7 linked regions of the Homo sapiens genome follow. The protein of the gene in region 1 purifies or fractionates together with the protein of each later gene. This does not show direct contact. Each region holds a gene or a part of one and is shown in the gene's direction. Other genes may lie near its edges. The genes, in order: LURAP1, SNAP29, TBC1D2B, KIF3A, UTRN, GTPBP6 and CDC42BPG.

What was found.
Region 2: the proteins of LURAP1 (region 1) and SNAP29 purify together in Homo sapiens (co-immunoprecipitation; 2 studies listed by BioGRID and IntAct, with this or other methods). This does not show direct contact.
Region 3: the proteins of LURAP1 (region 1) and TBC1D2B purify together in Homo sapiens (co-immunoprecipitation; 2 studies listed by BioGRID and IntAct, with this or other methods). This does not show direct contact.
Region 4: the proteins of LURAP1 (region 1) and KIF3A purify together in Homo sapiens (affinity purification with mass spectrometry; one large-scale study listed by BioGRID and IntAct). This does not show direct contact.
Region 5: the proteins of LURAP1 (region 1) and UTRN purify together in Homo sapiens (co-immunoprecipitation; 2 studies listed by BioGRID and IntAct, with this or other methods). This does not show direct contact.
Region 6: the proteins of LURAP1 (region 1) and GTPBP6 purify together in Homo sapiens (affinity purification with mass spectrometry; one large-scale study listed by BioGRID and IntAct). This does not show direct contact.
Region 7: the proteins of LURAP1 (region 1) and CDC42BPG purify together in Homo sapiens (co-immunoprecipitation; 2 studies listed by BioGRID and IntAct, with this or other methods). This does not show direct contact.

Annotation. Positions count from the first base shown.
Region 1 is NC_000001.11:46,206,334-46,209,833, forward strand, and holds part of LURAP1 (leucine rich adaptor protein 1), read left to right. Parts: intron 1-3,500. UniProt on the Homo sapiens protein: Acts as an activator of the canonical NF-kappa-B pathway and drive the production of pro-inflammatory cytokines. Promotes the antigen (Ag)-presenting and priming function of dendritic cells via the canonical NF-kappa-B pathway.
Region 2 is NC_000022.11:20,869,007-20,872,506, forward strand, and holds part of SNAP29 (synaptosomal-associated protein 29), read left to right. Parts: intron 1-1,330; coding exon 1,331-1,527; intron 1,528-3,500. UniProt on the Homo sapiens protein: SNAREs, soluble N-ethylmaleimide-sensitive factor-attachment protein receptors, are essential proteins for fusion of cellular membranes.
Region 3 is NC_000015.10:78,067,712-78,071,211, reverse strand, and holds part of TBC1D2B (TBC1 domain family member 2B), read left to right. Parts: intron 1-3,500. UniProt on the Homo sapiens protein: GTPase-activating protein that plays a role in the early steps of endocytosis.
Region 4 is NC_000005.10:132,696,047-132,699,546, reverse strand, and holds part of KIF3A (kinesin-like protein KIF3A), read left to right. Parts: intron 1-251; coding exon 252-376; intron 377-2,864; coding exon 2,865-2,913; 3' UTR 2,914-3,500. UniProt on the Homo sapiens protein: Microtubule-based anterograde translocator for membranous organelles. Plus end-directed microtubule sliding activity in vitro. Plays a role in primary cilia formation. Plays a role in centriole cohesion and subdistal appendage organization and function.
Region 5 is NC_000006.12:144,459,835-144,463,334, forward strand, and holds part of UTRN (utrophin), read left to right. Parts: intron 1-1,362; coding exon 1,363-1,508; intron 1,509-2,819; coding exon 2,820-3,032; intron 3,033-3,500.
Region 6 is NC_000023.11:306,528-308,796, reverse strand, and holds part of GTPBP6 (putative GTP-binding protein 6), read left to right. Parts: intron 1-916; coding exon 917-1,065; intron 1,066-1,284; coding exon 1,285-1,437; intron 1,438-2,269.
Region 7 is NC_000011.10:64,827,654-64,831,153, reverse strand, and holds part of CDC42BPG (serine/threonine-protein kinase MRCK gamma), read left to right. Parts: intron 1-806; coding exon of another isoform or gene 807-876; exon of another isoform or gene 877-897; coding exon 898-960; intron 961-1,083; coding exon 1,084-1,683; intron 1,684-3,370; coding exon 3,371-3,468; intron 3,469-3,500. UniProt on the Homo sapiens protein: May act as a downstream effector of CDC42 in cytoskeletal reorganization. Contributes to the actomyosin contractility required for cell invasion, through the regulation of MYPT1 and thus MLC2 phosphorylation.

The DNA of each region.
Region 1 (3,500 bases):
ATATTCTGATAGTCCCCGCTCTGGGAGCTCGGACTGGGATTTCCAGGCTTTTACCCTAGGGCCTGATTTATATTGAGCAATGAGGAAACCATACAGGACCCCAGCGCTGGGCAGAGAGTCTGGTATGTAGATGTTAAGGAGAGGAGTAGGGAGCCTGAATCTCCTTGGAAGGAGAATTGGGTTTGGAGTCGCCTCTGAGGCTGCATCTCTCCTGAGCTGTTTATCCTATACTCTATTTTCTTCAAGAGATGGTGTGAAAAGAGTGTTTCTTTTTCTGGCAAGAAAACCTTGCTTTCTTCTATTCTGGGAGTGATGCTGTCACAGTCAGGGAATCCCACTGCCACAGGATTATAGAATCTGCTCTCAGATTTATTTCCCAGCAACACACTACAACCCAGACCCCTGAATCCTGGGAACCATCAAAGGGGTCAAGGATAGTAAAGGCAAGAGAATCACAGAACTGAATGTGACCTCCTTAGCACTGGGCCAAGCACCAGAAATGGATTGGGCAGGATCTGCTCTCAGGGAGCTCACAGTCTGGTTAGGGAAGGAGGAGACAGAAGAACATTTCTAGTACAGGATGATAAGTGCTGGTAGAACCCAGGAAGGGCCTCCTGGAAGAGTCTTCACTGTAGAGTGATGTGGTTGGGTTTGTGCTCTAGAAAGTCGATTTCAAATTGGAAGGAGGCACAGGCTGTTTCCTCTGCTTGAAATGCTTCTCTCCACCTCTTTGTCTGGCTGAGTCCTTCTATTTTTTTTTTTTTGACACAGGGTTTCACTCCCATCACCCAGGCTGGAGTGCAATGGTACAATGTCGGTTCACTGCAACCTCTGCCTTCCAAGCTCAAGCGGTTCTCCTGCCTCAGCTTCCTGAGTAGCTGGGACTATGGGCATGTGCCACCACACCTAGCTAGCTTTTGTATTTTTAGTAGAGACGGGATTTTGCCATGTTGGCCAGGCTGGTTTCGAAGTCCTGACCTCAAGTGATCTTCTGCCTCAGCCTCCCAAAGTGCTGGGATTACAGGTGTGAGCCACTGCGCCCATCCTAGCTGAGTCCTTCTTAACCTTAAATTTTCAGCTCATGTCCCTTATCCTAGGAAGCATTTCCTGACCTGGTTAGGTTATGGCCCTCTAGGTATCTACAGTCCTCTGTATAGCAGTTGTTTCCACTAGCGTTTGCCACACTGAACTTTTCTTTCTTTCTTTCTTTCTTTTTTTTTTTTGAGATGGAGTCTCGCTCTGTCGCCCAGGCTGGAGTGCAGTGGTGCGATCTCGGCTCACTGCAAGCTCCGCCTCCTGGGTTCAGCCCATTCTCCTGCCTCAGCCTCCCGAGTAGCTGGGACTACAGGCACCTGCAAACACACCCAGCTAATTTTTTGTATTTTTAGTAGAGACGGGGTTTCACCATGTTAGCCAGGATGGTCTCGATCTCCTGACCTCGTGATCTGCCTGCCTCGGCCTCCCAAAGTGCTGGGATTACAGGCATGAGCCACTGCACCTGGCCTGAACTTTTCATTTTTAAATTATTTATTTATTATCATTATTTTTTTTGACACGGAGTTTCGTTCTTGGCGTCCAGGCTGGAGTGCAATGGCGTGATCTCGGCTCACTGCAACCTCTGCCTCCCGGGTTCAAGCGATTCTCCTGCCTCAGCTTCCTGAGTAGCTGGGATTACAGGCACCCGCCTAGTTAATTTTTGTATTTTTAGTAGAGATGGGGTTTCACCACGTTGGCCAGGCTGGTCTTGAACTCCTGGCCTCAAGTGATCTGCCTGCTTTGGCCTCCCAAAGTGCTGGGATTACAGGTGTGAGCCACCCCACCAGCCTTATTTATTTTTTTAATAGAGACAGGGTCTTGCTATGTTGCCCAGGCCAGTCTCAAACTCCTGGCCTCAAGCAGTCCGTTTGTGTCAGCCTCCCGAAGTTCTGGGATTGCAGGCTGAGCCACAATGCCAAGCCAACCACACTGAATTTTAAGTGCTTGCTTCATTGTCTTATCTTACCCACTAGATTATGAACCTTCTGAAGGTAAGAAATGATGCCTTTTCTTTCTTCATCGAACATAGTGCCACACCAATAAGAAACAATAAATATTGGTTCCATAACTGAATGGATTAATTCCATCTCGAGGAAGGGCAAGGAAGACTTCCTCGAGGAGGTGACATTTGAGCTGGGGCTTGAAGAATGAATAAAGTCAGTGGGAATTCCAGTTCAAGATACCAGATTGAGGGCCGGCACGGTGGCTCATGCCTGTAATCCCAGCATTTTGGGAGGCCGAGGCGGGCGGATCACCTGAGGTCAGGAGTTCGAGACCAGCCTGACCAACATGGTGAAACCCCATCTCTACTAAAAATACAAAAATTAGCTGGACGTGGTGGTGCACCTGTAATCCCAGCTACTAGGGAAGCTGAGGCAGGAAAATCGCTTGAACCCTGGAGGCGGAGGTTGCAATGAGCCAAGATCGTGCCACTGCACTCCAGCCTGGACGACTGTGCAAAACTCTGTCTCAAAAAGAGAAAAATAAATAAATAAAATAAATAAAAGGCATGAAGCCGTTATGACAATGAGAATAAGAGACAAGGTAATAGGAACAAAATTTTGGAAACTGAAATTCAGAAGGAAGAGTGGTAACTAACTCAGACCTAAAAAATGCTCAGTCCCGAGCCAGCAGTGGGGAAAGCTGAAAAGCAACACTTTTTTATTTTGTGGGGGATAGAGTTTTGCTCTTGTTGCCCAGGCTGGAGTGCAATGGCGCAATCTTGGCTCACCGCAACCTCCGCCTCCTGGATTCAAGCAATTCTCCTGCCTCAGCTTCCCAAGTAGCTGGGATTACAGGCATGTGACACCATGCCCAGCTAATTTTGTATTTTTCGTAGAGATGGGGTTGCTCCATGTTGGTCAGGCTGGTCTCGAACTCCCGAACTCAGGTGATCCATCCGCCTTGGCCTCCCAAAGTGCTGGGATTACAGAGCCACCGCCCCCTGCCAAAGCAACACATTTTATACTGCAAAAACCCTTAAAGGTCTTAGGGGTTGGAAGCACCAGGTATTTCTGGAACTGGGGGCACAAGTGGGGCTGAAAACAAAAGGGCTGGTTGAATGTTTAAAAGTCATATTCTAAGATCCCCTCCCTAACTGTGCAACCAGGTGCCACCTAATTCTTTATCTAGCAGAAGACTGGAGATGTAAGTTCTGTTGTTGTTTTCTTTTTTTTTTTCTTTTTTTTTTTTTGAGATGGAGTCTCGCTCTGTTGCCCAGGCTAGAGTGCAGTGGCCCAATCTCAGCTCACTGCAGCCTCAGCCTCCCGAGTAGCTGGGATTACATGCACCCGCCACCACACAGCTAATTTTTGTATTTTTAGTAGAGACGGGGTTTTGCCATGTTGGCCAGGCTGGTCTTGAACTCCTGACCTCGGGTAATCCACTTGCCTCAGCCTCCCAAAGTGCTGGGATTACAAGCATGAGCCACCATGCACGGCTGTAGATGTAAATTTTGGAAAGAG
Region 2 (3,500 bases), on another chromosome or scaffold:
TGGCTCATGCCTGTAATCCCAGCACTTTGGGAGGCCGAGGCGGGTGGTTCGAGACCAGCCGGGCCAACATGGTGAAACCCCGTCTCTACCAAAAATACAAAAAACTAGCCAGGCATGGTGGCAGGCGCCTGGAATCCCAGCTACTCAGGAGACTGAGGCAGGAGAATCGCTTGAACACAGGAGGCAGAAGTTGCAGTGAGCTAATATCACGCCACTGCACTCCAGCCTGGGTGACAGAGCAAGACTCCATCTCAAAACAGAAAAGGAGGTGGAGAAGAGGGGTAGTGGTTGGAAGAAGGAATTCTCCTTTAGGGAAGATGTCTGGGAAGGCCTCTCTGAGAGAGTGGCCTTTGAAAGGAGACCCTAATTGGATGAGGGATGAGAGGCTGAGCCATGTAAGTATCTGGATGGAAAACATTACAGGCGGAGACAGTGGTGTGTGCAAAGGCCCTGGGACAGGGTCACCCGTGTTAACAGGTTTTAAAGCTGGAATTGTGGATGGGCTAGAGTCAGACACTAATAGGGCCCAGAGGGGACACTGGTCCTTGAAATAGAATTTGAGGATTTGACCATGGCCAGGAGGCTCAGGTGGCCCAGTGGGAACTCCTTAAATGGGAACTTCCTAAAGGAAGAATATAAGAACCAAAGTCCAGGGGGCAGTGCCAGGCCCAACCTGTGAGGGTTCCCAGAGTTGGAGGGCTAGAGAGAATCTGCTTCCAGTTCAGGCCATAGACTCTGAACCTCACAGGCACATTGCCATCCATCTCCCCTCACCCCCAACCGAGACGGAGTCTTGCTCTGTCGCCCAGGCTGGAGTACATTGGCACCATCTTGGCTCACTGCAACCTCTGCCTTCAGGGTTGAAGCAATTCTCCTGCCTCAGCCCCCCGAGTAGCTGGGATTACAGGTGCCCGCCACAACACCTGGCTACTTTTTGTATTTTTAGTAGAGAGGGGGTTTCACCATGTTGGCCAGGCTGGTCTTGAACTCCTGACCTCATGATCTGCCCGCCTCAGCCTCCCAAAATGCTGGGATTACGGGTGTGAATCACTGCGCCACCCTCTGCCATCCATCTTAACATGGCGCCATGAGCCAGCCTCTCAGGAAAAGGGTCTCATGAACAAATGAGGAAAGCAAGTAGAGGTAGGGCAGGGAGGGAGAGGCAAAGGAATGTGTTGTTGGAAAGGGTAGTGTGCCCCTCACAGATGACAGTACCCGTCTCCAGATGTGCCCACTGAGAGTTTATGAAGGGGCTGCTCCATGTGGTCCTTGACTGCCCTGGGGGAGAGTCACAGAAAGCTATAATGCCACTGCCTCTCGGTTTCCCCAGGAGCTCGCCCGTCAGCGAGGAGTCCTGGAGCGCACAGAGAAGATGGTGGACAAGATGGACCAAGATTTGAAGATCAGCCAGAAACACATCAATAGCATTAAGAGCGTGTTTGGGGGGCTGGTCAATTACTTCAAATCCAAACCAGTAGAGACCCCACCTGAACAGAATGGCACCCTCACCTCCCAGCCCAACAACAGGTGAGTGCATCTTCTACCATCTGGGTATAAAGGAGCAGAAGTGGGGATTAGTGCAAATGACCAAGACTTTCAGTCCACGTCAGTGCCATGAAGGGATCCAACAACCCTTTAAGTTACTCATCAGGGGATATTTGTCCTCAAACATTGTGAAACCAGGAACTGTTCTTCCCTGATCCCATGTTCACTTGATTGACATCTAGTCTGTCAATAGCTTCTCCAATAATTGTGACCCCACTACTTTGAAAGAGAGGGTGTTCACCTCAGCGTAATCTGTACAAATGTGACTCACTTCACATAATTTTTGCTTTAAAAAATCTTTAGGGCTGGGTGCAGTGGCTCACACCTGTAATCCCGACACTTCAGGATGCCAAGGTGGGTAGATTGCTTAAGCCCAGGAGCTCGAGACCAGCCTGGGCAACATAGTGGGAACCCAGTCTTTACAAAAATTACCCAGGCATTGTGGTGCACACCTGTAGTCCCAGCTCCTCAGGAGGCTGAGGTAAGAGGATCTCATGAGGCCTGGAGATCAAGGCTGCAGTGAGCTGTAATGGTGCACTCCAACCTGGGCTACAGAGGGAGGCCCTGTCTCAAGAAAAAAAAAAAAAAAAGTCTTTATGTCTAAATTTGTCATATCTAATCCAATTCGCCCATTGATTTTTATTTGAAAATTATAAGGCTGGGCTCAGTGGCTTATCTGTAAAATCCCATGCTTTCAGAGGCTAAGGTAGGAGGATTGTTTGAGACCAGCCTAGACAACATAGCAAAGACCCGTCTCTATAAAAACTAAAAAAAAAAAAAAATTAGCCAGACATGATGGCACGTGCCTATATTCCTAGCTACAGGGGAGACTGAGGTGGAAGGATTGCTTTAGCCCAGGTGTTAGAGACTAGAGTTAAGCTATGATGGTGCCACTGCACTACAGCATCAGTGACAGAGTCTCCCTGTCTCTAAAAAAAAAAAAAAAAAAAAAAAGATTTAAAGCTAAATAATTAAAATCAAAAAAATAAAGTTAGAAGTTGCTTTCCTCAGGTTTTGGCTCGAAATATAAAATCATACATGAGACTGGGGGCCAGGCACGGTGGCTCACGCCTATAATCCTAGCACTTGGGGAGGCCGAGGCGGGTGGATCACCAAGTCAGGAAATCAAGACCATCCTGGCTAACATGGTGAAACCCTGTCTCTATTAAAAATACAAAAAATTAGCTGGGCGTGATGGCGGGCGCCCGTAGTCCCAGCTACTCGGGAGGCTGAGGCAGGAGAATGGTGTGAACCCGGGAGGTGGAGCTTGCAGTGAGCTGAGATCATGCCACTGCACTGCAGCCTGGGCGACAGAGCAAGACTCCGTCTCAAAAAAAAAAAAATTCATGAGATTTTGGTAGACTTCAGTGTTACATGTTCAAGGATAAAGGAATGGAGTTTCTGCTGAAGTAGATTACTATTGTTTGTATTTCAGATCACTGTGTCTGTTTTTATTACAAAAACAACATGGCCACATTACAGACAATCTATACTTTACCTACCGCAACACAAAAACAGAAAATTTCATTTTCCCCTTATTCAGTATTTTCATAGTTGTAACCATAGTATTCTTTTGGTTTGATAGCCTTTTTCTTCCATTTAACCCAGAAAAACTGCTTGATATTATGTGATAACTCAGGTTCCATAACCATCTCTCTCTCTCTCTTTTATTTATTTATTTTTTATTTTATTTATTTATTTTTTTTGAGATGGAGTTTCACCCTTGTTGCCCAGGCTGGAGTGCAAAGACGTGATCTCAGCTCACTGCAACCTCTGCCTTCCAGGTTAAAGCGATTCTCCTGCCTCAGCCTCCCAAGTAGCTGGGATCACAGGTGCCCACACCATGCCTGGCTAATTCTTTTTTTTTGAGACGGAGTCTCACTCTGTCACCCAGGCTGGAGTGCAGTGGTGCGATCTCGGCTCACTGCAAGCTCCGCCTCCCGGGTTCATGCCGT
Region 3 (3,500 bases), on another chromosome or scaffold:
AGGATCACTTGATACCAATAGTTCGAGACCAGCCTAGGCAACAAAGTGAGACCCTATCCCTACAAAAATTAAAAAAAACTAGCCAGGTGTGGCTGGATGTGGTGGCTCACGCCTGTAATCCCAGCACTTTGGGAAGCCGAGGTGGGTGGATCACTTGAGGTCAGGAGTTTGAGACCAGCCTGACCAGCATGGTGAGACCCTGTCTCTACTAAAAATACAAAATTAGCTGGGTGTGGTGGCGGATGCCTGTAATCCCAGCTGCTTGGGAGGCTGAGGCAGGAGAATTGCTTGAACCCAGGAAACAGAGGTTGCAGCAAGCTGAGGTGGCGCCATTGCACTCCAGCCTGGGCGACAAGAGCGAAACTCTGTCTCAAAACAAAAAACAAACTAGCCAGGCATGATGGCACATGTCTTTAGTCCCAGCTACTTGGGAGGCTGAGGCAGGAGGACTGCTTGATCCCAGGAGGTGGACATTGCAGTGAGCTGTGTTTGCTCCACTGTACTCCAGCCTGGGTGACAGAGGGAGACCCTGTTTCAAAAAAATAAAATAGCAAAATAAAAATGTTAAAACTGCCCTTGCCTTGTAGATTGTACAGAAATAGGCAGAGACTGGAAATGACCGCAGGCTGTAGTTCACTGACTTGTGTTCTAGGAAGGCCTCAGGAGCTTCCCACTCATTCACTCACTGTGTGTGCTTAGGCACTGGGGATATGACTGGACAAGACAAACAGTCCCTGTCCTCCTGGAGCTTTCAGTAGGTGGGGGGGACAGACGTTAATAAAATATAACAAACACCAACCAGTGCTAGGAAGTTTGAAAGGAAAGATATGCAATGCATGTATAGTTCAGGATCTTGATCTGGTTTATGGTTGGTGGAGGGCTAGGAAAGACTTTCCTGAAGAAGCGACATTTGAGCTGAGACTCAAAGGATGAGTTGGTGTTGACTGGAGCGGGGGTGGGGGTGGAGAGGAGGAAGTCAAGTGTTGTAGGGAGAGGAAATGGCATAAGCAGAGGCCCTTAGGTGGGGGTGCTGGTTGCATGTGGGACTCAAGGAGTGCCTGGTGGCAACTAGGAGTGAAGGGGACATAGCCTTTGGAAGAGGCAGGCCTTGGGCCAGGGCAGGATTTTGGTCTTCATCTTAAGAGCTAGAGTCAGTAAAGAGTTTTAAGCAGGGTTTGACAAATAGGTTTTTGTTTTCTTTCTTCTGCTCCCAGATAGATTGTTTTAGGCCATTTGTGCTGCTGTGAAAAAATACCGTAGACAGGGTAGCTTATAAACAACAGAAATTTATTTCTCATAGTTCTGGAGGCTGGGAAGCCCAAGATGAAGGCACCAGCAGATTTGGTGTCTGGTGAGGGCTCACTCTGCTTTAGAGGTGGTGCCTTCTAGTGGTGTCCTCATAGCAGAAGGGGACAGACAAGTTCCTTCTGGGGCCTCCATCTATGTATGTTTGTATATATGTATGTATGTATCTATCTATCTAAATGTATTTTTCTCCTCAAATTCCTTTTACCACTCTGGCCTCTTTCATAAGGACCCTGATCTCATTCCAGAGGGCTCTGCCCTCATGACTTAAATCACTTCCCACAAGGCTTCCCTCTTAGTACTATCATCTTGGGGACTGGGTCTCAACACGTGAATTTTGCGGGGACACACGTTTGGACTGTGGCACTGATGGTTTGGTCATGCCTAGTATTTTTATGTAACTAAGTTAGAGGATTATCGTGTTGGGTACAAAGGGTTGATGTATTTATATGTTATGTACTGGCAAACAGATTTAAAAGTAGATAAATGCAAAGCTGAACCTATCTTGAGCAGTTGCTTCTTAATTTTGTTTCTGAGTGGTGGGTGTTGTGATGGGTGAAGCTCGCTTTGGCAGGTGTGTGTGTGGCTAGGGCCGGCCCGCCCTGGTGGACTTCCTTTCCTGAAGCATTCCTAATGGCCCCCGGCATTGACTTCTCTCCTGCTGCACTTGCTTTGCTCATATGCACATTACCAGTTTCCTTCCTCTGTGGAGATGACGATTTCTTGAGAAATGGAAGGAGTATTCAGATGTACCAGCTCCCACCTCACGTCTGAGGGGGGTGGACCAGTCTCCTCGATCAGTTGCTTTTACCTTTGAGCCACTGGGGTGCAGACTTCCCACCTCCAGTCAGAACAAAATACAAACAGTAACACCCCCTTCCTCTAAAGAAAGAAAAAGACCCCCACCATTGTAGAAGTGACTGTCAGTTTGGGAGAGGGAGAGGCATTTTCATTAGCAATTTTCGGTTCTGGTATTTATGTAGTGGGATCTTAATGACATGTGATCGGGTGTTCACCCATATCCTGTCAGGCCAGCCCTCAGCTGGGTTTTGTTTGCTTTCACAGAGTGAATGCAATGTGGAAATGGTAAACTGGGTAGTGGTGACTAGTTAGTGGCTTGTAACTAGTGTTCTGTGAAGTACTTTGCCTGGAGTGCTCAGTTCAGTAAACATCTTGGCATTCAGATATGTGAGGCCATGTGAGGGGCAAGAAGCTGAGAGGATCCCTGGGGAGACTGTGGCTTTCGTGATTGTCCAGCAGGCAGTAGCTCACCAGCCAGCACAGGAGGCCCTCAGTCGGCTACAGATTCAGGATGGTTTTGCTCCTGGTCTAGTCTTTGAGTGTCTGCTGTTGTGTCCTACCAGAGCATCACCTCCTAGGATATTTTGTCAGTGTATTTCACTACTGTGCCTTTCATACTTAGAGGATCCCAGCACCTGTTAGATGCTTGTTGGCTAAATGCATGCTTTAAGCCCTCATATCCTCTGTGTGTGTGTGTGTGTGTGTGTGTGTGTGTGTGTGTGGGTGTGGTGTGTGTGCTTTCATTTCATGGTGAAACGGACGTTTGTAGTGTCCATTTACTCAGCAAATATTTTTGAGCATCTATCATATTCTAAGCACTATGCTGCTTGCTGCAAATACAGCAGTGAAAATTTTCCATTGATTTAAGAAACTGTAGTGTTAACTTTAAAAATAGCTTAGCATCTGATATAATCAAAGAATTGTAAGAGTTTTGAAAAAAACATTGAAGAGGCCCATGTTTGTCTGTAGTATTCAGCACTGAGATAAATATCACATGTCTGCAAGTTTTTTGATTCTGAGAAGTCTGGCACTTCTCCATAGTAAAGGAAGGGGAGGGGGCATCCATATGTAAAATACTAATCTGGATATGGCCCAGGGCCAGAAATCTGTGATTTGTGTAATAATTTTGGTGAACACTGCAGAATTGGAGAGTTCTGTATAACTGATTATCAAGAAAGCTCCCTGAAGAAGATGGGACAAGGGAGTTAGTAAATGTTGGTATAATTGTGTAGCTGCTCAAAGACTTAGTTCCTGTTTGATCAGCAACATGTGTTCCCTGTAAGCTGGGAATCACCATCTTCTAATGAGTTTGCATGCTTGGCCATTTTCTTAGCCTTTGCAGAGATTGCCTGGGAGAACTAGAATCCAGTGTGAGAAGTGGGGATTTGGTAGCT
Region 4 (3,500 bases), on another chromosome or scaffold:
GGCAGCTTTAAGAAAAACAGCAACAGTTTTTATGTCCAAGGAAATTTATAGTGTGTCAGGGCTTCTTACTCACCAACCTTTATTAAGTACATTTTAGATACTGGGATTAGAAGATGATGTCATTAGACATTTCTTTGGTTTTAGCTTCTGTGGGTTTGATCAAGGAGTTTATTCAGTATTTTAAATCTTCCCCCAAATCTGGCTTTAACTCTTTGCCTTAAGAGTGCTTTGTGTTTGTTTCTTTTACTTAGCCCTTTGAGGTGGACCTTTCTCACGTGTATCTTGCCTATACTGAGGAGAGTCTGCGTCAGTCTTTGATGAAACTAGAAAGACCACGAACTTCAAAGGGGAAAGCAAGGCCAAAGACAGGGAGAAGGTAAGGACTGTCCTTGAATCTGGTAAAACGAAGGCATTGAGGTATTCTAATTAGATACATGTACAGGAAGTTAAAATTTATTTAGTTAAAACATGATACATATTTTGGCTGATTTATTAAAAATCAAATTCCTGGCTGGGCACAGTGGCTCACGCCTGTAATCCCAGCATTTTGGGAGGCCGAGGCAGGTGGATCATTTGAGGTCAGGAGTTTGAGACCAGCCTGGCTAACATAGTGAAACGCTGTCTCTACTAAAAATACAAAAGTTAACCAGGCATGGTGGCGCATGCCTGTAATCCCAGCTACTGGGGAGGCTGAGGCATGAGAATCGCTTGAACCCAGGAGCCGGAGGTTGCAGTTAGCCGAGATCATGAGATCATGCCACTGAACTTCAGCCTGGGTGACAGAGCAAGACTTGGTCTCAAAAAAAAAAAAAAAAAATCAAATTCCTTATGTATTAGAATTTGAGTAAATAAAATCTGGCCAAAGAATTAAGGTCTTCCAACTTCTTAGGCTTCTGAGTAATAGAATTTATTTTTAATTCACTCTGTTATTTCCAAATGTATAATGGGTTTAATTCCTTAATTCTTAGACTAATTCTTCTTATGAAATGCTAATTAATTTGCCTGTTTGGTCTCCCAAGGTATTGTATTCAGCTGGTTAGTTTTTCTGTCAGGTGCCCCAAGAACCTTGATTTCCTCAGTCACCAGCTAAGGAGAACTTCCTTGGACATTTCCCCCTCTCCTTTGGGCACTGGTTTTGACTGTTGGGTAGTCTGCGTGTATCATCACATAAGCTCAGGGAAATCGGGATATGGGAGTCCTGGGCTGGAGCTTATTTTTTTTTCCTTTCCCTTTCCTACATCAAGGACTGTTCAGTTTATTTAAGCTGATTTTAAGACTCTGGGGCTCCTAAAATGTAGGAAATAATAAGCTGCTTTTTTCCCTACTTTGAGTGCATGGACTTTCAAGTTACATGTGGGATGAAGTTGTACGGTTTTGATATCTTTGTGTTACATAATCTCATAGACATGACTTAACACTTATAAATTTGGGATGGTTGAACTCAGGGTTGGGCAAACAGTTGAATATTAAAAATGTACAAATTTTTACATTCTTTAGCATTTAGGTGAGGGGTTAAAAACTTTCCTATACCAACACATGCCAAGCATATTGTAGTGAAGCAAATCAGTTCTAAGAAACATGAGTCCCTTTAGATGTATCTTTTTTTCCATTTTTAATAAAATGACAGTGCAAGTGTGATGATAAATGGTAAGACATTTGTCCCCAGCGTAGGAGAAAAATTGGCAGTGGTGAGCAGTCCTGTCTAAAGTGAGTGGCTGCTATTCTCTTCCTAGTTATCTATGGAAATAGAGGGCTCATTGTTTCTGGATCTTCTGTTTTCTTTTCTTTTCTTTTTTTTGAGATGGAGTCTCACTCTGTTGCCCAGGCTGGAGTGCCCTGAGTAGCTGGGATTACTGGCACCTGCCACCATGCCCAGTTAATTTTAGTATTTTTACTAGAGATGGGGTTTTGCCCTGTTGGCCAGGCTGGTCTCGAACCCCTGACTTCAGGTGATCTGCCCACCTCAGCCTCCCAGAGTGTTATGATTACAGGCATGAGCCACCGTGCCTGGCCTGGATCTTCTCTTTTCTAAGGAAAAGCCAGAAATTCGAATTATTTACTTGAGATCTGTCAATTTTACTTTTTTTTTTTTTAACTATATGGACCCTAAAGCAAATGAATAAATAATATGATATTTGAATACGTTTTCCAGAACATCCATTTTAAGATACGTCATTTTTTTAGTTTAACATTAAAAAAATCGTGTGGCCCAACATTATATGAGCCAAACTCACCATCTCTGTATACTGGAATTGGCCTGCTATAACCATGGAAACCCTAAGAAAATGGTAGCCATAAACATGGACAAATACATGCATTAAATGGTTTATTGATGCTATGTTACATTATATGATATGTTCAATGTGATGTTCCTTGTTAGAAACACATAGTTAGATGGGCTAGGCAAAATTGCAATAAATATAATACATTAATGTAGCATTTCCATAAGTCCCTACATATGCATCAGGTATTGCCTGAGATGATTTGTTTCTGATTTCCTCTGAATCCACTTGCACCTTTTGAGTACCTCAGAAGAGATAATCAGGAAGTTCAAATCTGGCAAGCATGCAGCTCACTTGGCCTGGCCACATGACCTAGTCTAGTCTTGGAAATTATCACCTGTCCTATCCTTCACTATCTGGCATAATGGGGTGGGCTGCCATCCTCTTGCATTTACTTTAAGTTAGCTTCCCGTAGCCTGAAAAGGCGAGCATTAATTGAACACTTACCATGGTCAAACGTGTCAAATTTTGGCTTGTTTCCAGACTATACAGGCCACCCCATAGTTTCTATATAATGTTAAATGTTTGCATTTCAGTCTTTTAGGAAAGCATTCATGATTGCTTTTTTTCTTCTCCAAACAGAAAGCGTTCTGCAAAGCCTGAAACTGTAATTGACTCTTTACTGCAGTAAATGTTACAGACTTAAAGTCACAATAAAAATTAGTGATATTCTCATGCCTGGACAAAATCTTTAATTAAAACAGTGAAGACTTCTCTATAATTTCAATTAATGGAAGTTGTAGATCAATGAATAAGACTGGAAATAATAATTTGCTTAAGAACTTTTAGTCTACATATATTAATATAACATTAAAATTGTACAACTGGTGATTGTTCAAATTGTTGTACTACTACTCTTCAATTGTACTGTGCAGGGAAGTTGGGGGAACAGTTCATACTATAGAGAGTTACAGTTTAGATGTATGTGTAAATCGATTAGCTATTTATCCAACTACTGTATATTTAGGTAACTAGAATTTCAAAATAGAAAAAAAAAAACTGTGTCCTGTTTTGCACATAGAAAGAAGCAGATCAGATTGTCCTATGTTGCGCTGTTATATATGAATGTTTGGACTGTACATCTAAAGAATGATTCCGTCCTAACACCCACCCAGCCTGTTTGAACACATTCTAATTGTCTAACATTTGTTGCATTTTAAGTATGAGATGACTGATCTTATGAATGTTTTGTAGAAAATGTTATAATTTAACAGTCTT
Region 5 (3,500 bases), on another chromosome or scaffold:
CCACCTCAGCCTCCCAAAATAACAGGTGTAAGCCATTATAACAGGTGATATAACAGCCTCCCAAAATAACAGGTGTTAGGCAAAATAACAGATGTTAGCCTCCCAAAATACCAGGGATAACAGGTGTCAGCCATTGTACCTGACCTGGATATAATGATTTTTAAAGATTTTTTTTTTTTTTTTTTTTGAGAAACAGGTGCAATTTCTTCCTTTGGTTGAGGAGGCCACTTAATATCATTGCTAGGAGGATCAAAATGAATGATCCCTTACTTCTGTTTCCTCAAAATAGTTAAAGTTTTGGCAGTCTCATACTGTCTTTTAAAAGAAATCATATTCCACTGTCAGATTCAGAAAAATTTTAGAGTTCTTACTTTTGGAATACACTTGGTTTTGGAAGGTTCACTGTTAAAGATTTTGAAAGCTCATCCCTCCTACGTTACACTATTTACTTCCTAGCTGCCATTTGAGTTAGGAACTGTGTTGCATTGTGCATTATTTTGTGAAATGCATTGAGCATTGTGTGAAATGCTCCACATGTAACCCAGCCTAACTTCAGCAATTGTAGATTGTGTGATGACTGGAAGTGTCTGTATGTGTGCATGCTAGGCAAATGTGTCGTATTGCCTTTCTTCTGAAAGTGCATCTGGACAGCATGTCTTTGTTCCTTGAATTCAGTTATGTGAAATATGTCTTTGAGGGTACCTCTTTCTCCACTTATTGGTACAAGCTGTGCTTTCACTTTTGACAAGGATCAGTAGGCAGTTTAACTTTTGCTGCTAGTTGGTTTCACCTCTTTGTGCTTCAAGAGAACTCACTTCCTTTCCACGCAAGTGTTACTTCTGTGATATTTTTACATTAGTGACTGAGGTAGACACTGTTCCAGCTGGCTGTTCAGTCATTATTTCTCAGGGTACCTGGGCAGCATGGTGGCAGTATTTCCATATAATCTCCTCCACTCTGGACCTGGGTTTGTCTACACGGTGGAGCTTACAGCAAGACTGGTTGAAGGGATCTTTGTTTTCTTTTATTCTTTGTGTAGCTGTTAAGGAAGAGGAGATTATATGGAACAAAAGGGACATTGTTGTTCCATCTTCAGAGAGACATTTCATCATGAAGAAATGAAGAAAAATTATAGTGGGTTAGTTAATATTTCAAACGTCAACATCCGCAGGAATGAAGTCACTGTCTGACTCTCAGAAATGCCAATGGAATGATCTATGTTGTTAATTAACAGAGACCCTTTTACATTTTAATCATGGGGTCTCCTTTGCCATGTATTGGAATTCATTTAGGATAATGGTCTATGTAATAATATTGGTTCCTAATATGATTTTTTCAAACTAAATATTTTTAAATAAACAGAACTGAAGGGCCAACCTGGACATGCATATCTGGAAACATTGAAAACACTGAAAGATGTGCTAAATGATTCAGAAAATAAGGCCCAGGTGTCTCTGAATGTCCTTAATGATCTTGCCAAGGTGGAGAAGGCCCTGCAAGAAAAAAAGGTAACATATATCTTCCATGTTAGAACTCTAGCGCTTCTTCTAATATCTCCTCTTACATATTTTGAAATGTTTTTTCAGAGATTAAAAAAAAAGTTGGTCAGTTTTGTTCATCATTGGTGCAAAAATGTGTTTATGATTTGAGGGTTAGTTTGACCTCACATAAAAGAAAGTACAGTTATTAAAAATTTTTTCATAGAAGAAAAGCATATTTTCTCCTTCTGCTGTGATTAGCTTAAAATTCTCAACCTGTTCATAAAATCTGCTAAAATATCTTTATGAAATGAGGACTATCAGTTGACGTGTTGATGTATACTTTTTTCTGCATCGAATAGGAATGTTTCCGAGGTCATTTAGTTGAGTAGCCTTATGGCTCTGTGCTATTAGATGAAAAGGAGAGCAGCCATTGAGCACTGCACACTTGGCCCACACTGGGTTTGCTGTTCCCTTGGTTTTTAGGGTTGAGAATACACTGTATTGCCCACACACAACTCATGAAGAAAAAGCTTTAATTTTTATGATTATGCCTATTTTTTTCATGAGTTTTTCATGTTTTGTTTTGTTTTGTTTTTTGATTTCCAACTTTTATTTTAAGTTCAGGGGTACTTGTGCAGGATGTGCAGGTTTGTTAAATGGGTAAACGTGTGTCATGGTAGTTTGCTGCACTACGTATTAAGCCCAGCATCCATTAGCTCTTCTTCCTGATGCTTTCCCTCCCACCATGCCCCACCCTCCAACAGACCCCAGTGTGTGTTTTTCCCCACCATGTGTCCGTATGTTCTCATTATTCAGCTCCCACTTATAAGTGAGAATATGCGGTATTTTTTTTTGTTGTTTCTGAATTAGTTTGCCGAGGATAATGGCTTCCAGCTCCATCCATATACCTGCAAAGGACATGATCTTGTTCCTTTTTATGGCTGCATAGTATTCCATGGTTGATATGTACCACATTTTCTTTAAGTAGTCTATCATTGATGGGCATTTGGGTTGATTCCTTGTCCTTGCTATTGTGAATTGTGCTGCAATGAACATAGTGTGCATATATCTTTATAACAGAATGATTTGTATTCCTTTGGGTATATACCCAGTGAGATTGCTGGGTCAAATGGCATTTCTGGTTTTAGGTCTTTGAGGAATCACCACACTGTCTTCCACAGTGGTTGAACTAATTCACACTCCCACCCACTGTTCTTTTTAGATAAAAATGCTTTCTAATGCATTTTAAAGTGACTTTTGACTTTATATAGCCCATTTTACTATATCTGTGCAGACACATTTTTGTGCATATTTTTAATCTTTTAAAACTTTTTCCAGACCCTTGATGAAATCCTTGAGAATCAGAAACCTGCATTACATAAACTTGCAGAAGAAACAAAGGCTCTGGAGAAAAATGTTCATCCTGATGTAGAAAAATTATATAAGCAAGAATTTGATGATGTGCAAGGAAAGTGGAACAAGCTAAAGGTCTTGGTTTCCAAAGATCTACATTTGCTTGAGGAAATTGCTCTCACACTCAGAGCTTTTGAGGTAAATCCAGAGGCCACTGGGAGTTTAAGTTTATTACGGGGTAAATAGTAATTATCTTATAAGATTCACGTATTTATTATTTAAATATTTTACATTCTTTCTAGATCCCCATTTATTATGTATTTAAGTTGGGACTTATCAAAGATGTACTTTTAATGTGCTAGAGAGCACATTTATTTCCTTTTGCCTGGAAGCAAAGTCAAAAGTAGAGTAAACTGGACCTTGAAGATAAGAGAAAATTGCTTAAAAATGGTCAAAATAATGTTTCAGGCATGGAGGGCCTGTGTGAAATACAGACTGTTGATTAGATTATAGTAGTAACTTGGTTGGGGTGGTAGAAATAGCCCAGGTAGTAGTAAATTGCTGAATACATGAAACTACTTTTTGCAGGTTTTTGACATTTGAAGTCAAAAGTCAGAGATAGGCCATTGACAGTGTCAGAGTGGGAAGGCAAATCGTTCCAGGGAC
Region 6 (2,269 bases), on another chromosome or scaffold:
CGCCACTGCACTCCAGCCTGTGTGACAGAGCGAGACTCGTCTCAAAAAAAAAAAAAAAAAAAAAGTAAAACTTTCCTGGGATGAAATTATTTTTTTTGTTTTTACTTTTCTTCTTTAGAGACAGGGTCTCGCTCTGTCACCCAGACTGAACCGCAGTGGTATGATCTCGGCTCACTGCAGCCTCGACCTCCTGGGCTCAAGTGATCCTCCCACCTCAGCCTCCTGAGTAGCTGAGACCACAGACACGCACAACCAGGCCATGGCTAATTTTTGTACTTTCTGTAGAAACGGCCTCACTCTCTTGCCCAGGCTGGTCTCAAACTTCTGGGCTCAAGCCACCTCCCAAAGTGCCTCAGTTACAGGAAAAATATTATTTGTATTAAGTGCATCCAAACAAACAAAAAGTAGACGTGGATACCCCGGTAGTATAAGTTGGAGAATTACACACGGCTTTATTTTTTTTTCCCTGTGTTTTTCAAATTTTGTGTAAGGAGCCTGCCTGTAAGATTTTTTTTGAACGTGAGAAAAAAAGCATCCTTTAAAGAGGAAATAATTCCGCTGTTAAAAGACATTTCACAGGAGGATGAAGCCGCCCTAAAGCTTTGAATGAAGACCCCCTGGGTGGGTGGGTGGTGGTTGGGTGCTCATATATGGCACCCCCTTGCGTGTGGGTCTGGGGGTGCGGAGCTGCTGCCTGTGGCTTGGAAGGTTGGGTAAGTGCAGCCGGGTGGGCTCGCGTCCACTGTTGGTCTAGGAGCCCCCGTCCTGGGGTGTCCGAGGGGCCTGCACACAGGCGTACCTCCCATGCCCAGCCTGTCGTTGGGAGCTCGTGTGAGCCCCTCTCCTGGGCCTGTCTGCAAGCTTGGGGTCAGGGACCAGAGGCTCCGCAGCTCTGACCCCACGGCCCGGCCCACAGGATCTCATCTTGCACGTGAGGGACGTCAGCCACCCCGAGGCGGAGCTCCAGAAATGCAGCGTTCTGTCCACGCTGCGTGGCCTGCAGCTGCCCGCCCCGCTCCTGGACTCCATGGTGGAGGTTCACAACAAGGTGGACCTCGTGCCCGGGTGAGTCCGGCCCTGGGGTCCGCAAGCGTCTCCTTCCCCTGCACGCGCTGGAGCCGGGTGGGGAGATGCCCCGTCTCCTCGTGTGAACCGCAGCGGTGGCAGTCAGGACACAGGGAGTGGCCCCAGACTGTGCCCCGTGGGCAGTGGACTCCTGGGGACCCTGATTTCGTCCGGCCGCCCCGACGCTGAGCGGGGCCTGTGACATCCCCACCCTTGCAGGTACAGCCCCACGGAACCGAACGTCGTGCCCGTGTCTGCCCTGCGGGGCCACGGGCTCCAGGAGCTGAAAGCTGAGCTCGATGCGGCGGTTTTGAAGGCGACGGGGAGACAGATCCTCACTCTCCGTGTGAGGCTCGCAGGGGCGCAGCTCAGGTGAGCGGCCTGCAGGGGCAGGAGACGGGATGGTGCTTTGGATGCCTGTCTCTGGCTCTGAAACGGGCTCTTCGTGGGTGCACAAGGAGCTGTGAGATCCCCGAGAGCTTTAGGATGTACAGACGAGATGAATGGGTTTGCATCAAATGTACATTTGTGACTGTGCATACAAGAGGTGCCTAATCTGCGCTTGAGAGTCAAAATCTACATTTGTGACTGTGCATACAACAGGTGCCTAATCTGTGCTGACAGTCAAAATGTACATTTCTGACTGCATACAACGGGTGCCTAATCTGTGCTTGACAGTAAAAATACATTTCTGACTGCATACAACAGTTGCCTAATCTGTGCTTGACAGTCAAAATGTACATTTCTGACTGCATACAACAGGTGCCTAATCTGTGCTGACAGTCAAAATGTACATTTCTGACTGCATACAACAGGTGCCTAATCTGTGCTGACAGTCAAAATGTACATTTCTGACTGCATACAACAGGTGCCTAATCTGTGCTGACACTCAAAATATACATTTCTGACTGTGGATACAACAGGTGCCTAATTATGCTGACAGTGAAAATGTACATTTCTGACCATACAACAGGTGCCTAATCTGTGCTTGACAGCCAAAATGTACATTTCTGTGCATACAACAGGTGCCTAATCTGCACTGACAGTCAAAATGTACATTTCTGACTGCATACAACAGGTGCCTAATCTGTGCTGACAGTCAAAATGTACATTTCTGACTGCATACAACAGGTGCCTAATCTGTGCTTGACAGTAAAAATACATTTCTGACTGCATACAACAGTTGCCTAATCTGTGCTGACAA
Region 7 (3,500 bases), on another chromosome or scaffold:
CTCCGCCTCCCAGATTCAAGCGATTCTCCTGTCTCAGCCTCCAGAGTAGCTGGGATTGCAGGCATGCACCACCTCGCCTGGCTATTTTTTGTATTTTTAGTAGAGACGGGGTTTCAGCATGTTGGCCAGGCTGGTCTCGAACTCCTGACCTCAGGTGATCCACCCACCTTGGCCTCCCAAAGTGCTGGAATTATAGGCATGGGCCACCGTGCCCAGCTGGAACAAAGGCTTTAGAAAGAGAGAAACGAAGGTTCAGTCCTGGCTGTCTCACTACAAGCTGGGGGACTGGGGGAGCTGCTGTAGAACCACCCAGAGCCTCATAACATCTCCTGGGTGGAGCTGCGAAGAGCTTCACTTGTGCTCAGCCTTGAACCTGGGGCTCAGCAGGGCTCTTCTGTAACTAAGGCTGGGAAAGAGGCATGAAACAGAGCTCCTTGGCGTTCCCCAGCAGCTGAGGCCCTGAGCCAGGCCCGGCTCTCAGGGCGGGAGACACAGGAGAGGTTGTGCGGGTCCCTGGAGCAGTCGGGAACCAGAGGGGAGGGGATTTATTGAGCAAGGGGCTCTGCTGAACCCTCCCCTGCATCACTTCCTCGCTTCCTCAGAGTTGCTCTGTGAGGAAGTACCATCGTTGTCCCCAGTTTACATAAGGAAACCAAGGCTCTGAGAGGTGACATGACTTACCCAAAATCCCACAGCTCAAGATGATGGGCCTCACCCCAACCCCTCTGGAAAAGCCTGTCCAGACTGGGAGAGAAGGGTCAGTGAGGCAGGGACAGCGGGATTATTGCCACCCCCATTTCCTCAAGATAAACAGGCACAGCAGGGCAGGTGGACTGCCCAATCTCCGTGTCATTGAGTGGGACTGCTGACCTCTGACCCTCTGCCTCCCTCTACCAGACCAGGATCGACTTGCGCTTGGCACCGAGGAGGGGCTCTTTGTCATCCATCTGCGCAGCAACGGTACCTATCAAAGCTGGGCTAGGGTGGGCGTGGGCAGGGGCAGCCCCAGCGGGCAGAGGAGGATGGGGATGGGTCACTCTTCAACCACCTGCCAGTGACACTCTCCCCTCGCCAACCCTGCAGACATCTTCCAGGTGGGGGAGTGCCGGCGCGTGCAGCAGCTGACCTTGAGCCCCAGTGCAGGCCTGCTGGTCGTGCTGTGTGGCCGCGGCCCCAGCGTGCGTCTCTTTGCCCTGGCGGAGCTGGAGAACATAGAGGTAGCAGGTGCCAAGATCCCCGAGTCTCGAGGCTGCCAGGTGCTGGCAGCTGGAAGCATCCTGCAGGCCCGCACCCCGGTGCTCTGTGTAGCCGTCAAGCGCCAGGTGCTCTGCTACCAGCTGGGCCCGGGCCCTGGGCCCTGGCAGCGCCGCATCCGTGAGCTGCAGGCACCTGCCACTGTGCAGAGCCTGGGGCTGCTGGGCGACCGGCTATGTGTGGGCGCCGCCGGTGGCTTTGCACTCTACCCGCTGCTCAACGAGGCTGCGCCGTTGGCGCTGGGGGCCGGTTTGGTGCCTGAGGAGCTGCCACCATCCCGCGGGGGCCTGGGTGAGGCACTGGGTGCCGTGGAGCTTAGCCTCAGCGAGTTCCTGCTACTCTTCACCACTGCTGGCATCTACGTGGATGGCGCAGGCCGCAAGTCTCGTGGCCACGAGCTGTTGTGGCCAGCAGCGCCCATGGGCTGGGGTAAGGCCTGCTGAGGGCTTGGCAGGGGGGCCAGGCACCTTCAGTGGGTGGGTGAAGACAGGGTCCCGCCTCAACTCATGAGCCTGGCATTGGAGGCCTTTGGTGCCAGTTTGCATCCTCCAGCCCAACAACACCCTGTCCCACCCTCTGTGGCTTGCAGGGGACCTTCCTTTTCCATGGCTGAGCTCATGCTCCTCTCCTGCCTGAGCCGCTCTCCTTTTGTTTCTATCTAGCAAACTTTTTTTTTCTTTTGAGACAGGGTCTCTGTCTGTCACCAGGCTGGAGTACAGTGGCACAATCTCGACTCACTGCCACCTCCGCCTCCTGGGGTCAAGTGATCCTCCCACCTCACCCTCTCGAGTAACTGGGGGCACAGGTGTGTGCCATCACGCCTGGCTAATTTTTGTTTTGTTTTGTTTGAGACAGAGGAGTCTCACTCTGTCGCCAGGCTGGAGTGCAGTGGTGTGATCTCGGCTCACTGCAACCTTTGCTTCCCGGGTTCAGGTGATTCTCCTGCCTCAGCCTCCCTAGTAGCTGGGACTACAGGTGCACGCCACCACACCCAGCTAATTTTTGTATTTTTAGTGGAGACGGGGTTTCACCATGTTGGCCAGGCTGGTCTCAAACTCCTGACCAAGTGATCCACCTGCCTTGGCCTCCCAAAGTGCTGGGATTACAGGCGTTAGCCAACGCGTCCAGCCTAATTTTTGTATTTTTTCAGAGATGGGGTTTCGCCATATTGCGCAGGCTGGGAGTCTCAAACTCCTGAACTCAAGCAATCCTCCCGCGCGGCCTCCCAAAGTGCTGGGATTACAGGTGTGAGCCACCGGCCCCGGCCTGTACCTGGCAAACTCTTAACTAGGTACCACCCCAGTGTCAGCTCAGGGCCTGGAGCTGGTAGGCGCTCCAAAGATAACCGCTGCGATTGCTGTGGTCACCATTGCCTTCGTGCTCCCCGCCCTGCTTCCCCGTCATTGGTCCTTTCCTTCTCTTTGCCCCACTCTCTCTCCGTCCAGACCTGTGTCACGGCTCTCATCGCCTCCACTTCATGACTGGCTTGGTGCACTGGGGTCCCACAGAATGGGCCGGGGCTGGTTTCCTCATCCACATCAAGCCCCCAGCCCAGGGTGGCACACTCCAGGGGCGATGGGCTTGGAGGAATGAGTGGAAGAGTGAATGAATGAATGAATGAGGCAGTGGGGCAGTCTGGTGCATGCACAAGTAACTAGCATGATGGGTAAGGGCTGGAAGAGAGGGGCAGAGTGTCCTTCGTGAGCAATGGCTCTTTGGGGTGGGGCCTGCAGGTTGGGTGCCGCATATCACCCAAGCTGCCCAGGGCCAAATCGCAGCTCTCAGGACCAGCTGAGTGACCTGACCTTGACCATCACATGGCTCCAGGGGTTCCATTCCCTCATCTGGAAATTAGGGATTATAACAGTAGTACTTGCTCAGAGTTGTTAGAAAATTAAGGCAGGAAAAGCATGTCGTGTTTAGAACTGAGCCAGGCATGTGGTGAGTGGTCCAGGGTTATCTCTGATTTGATGTGGAGGCTGGGCCGGGCGACAGGGAGTCTTCAGAGGAAGGACCTTAGCGTGGGGCATGGTAGTTACTGTGCTGTGGCAGGGGACAAGGTGTTCCCTGTGGAACAGAGGGGGAAACAGCTCAGAGGTGCCTGGCGTGCCCGCAGGGTATGCGGCCCCCTACCTGACAGTGTTCAGCGAGAACTCCATCGATGTGTTTGACGTGAGGAGGGCAGAATGGGTGCAGACCGTGCCGCTCAAGAAGGTGAGGGTCCGCCAGAGCCCTGGGGTAGCGCC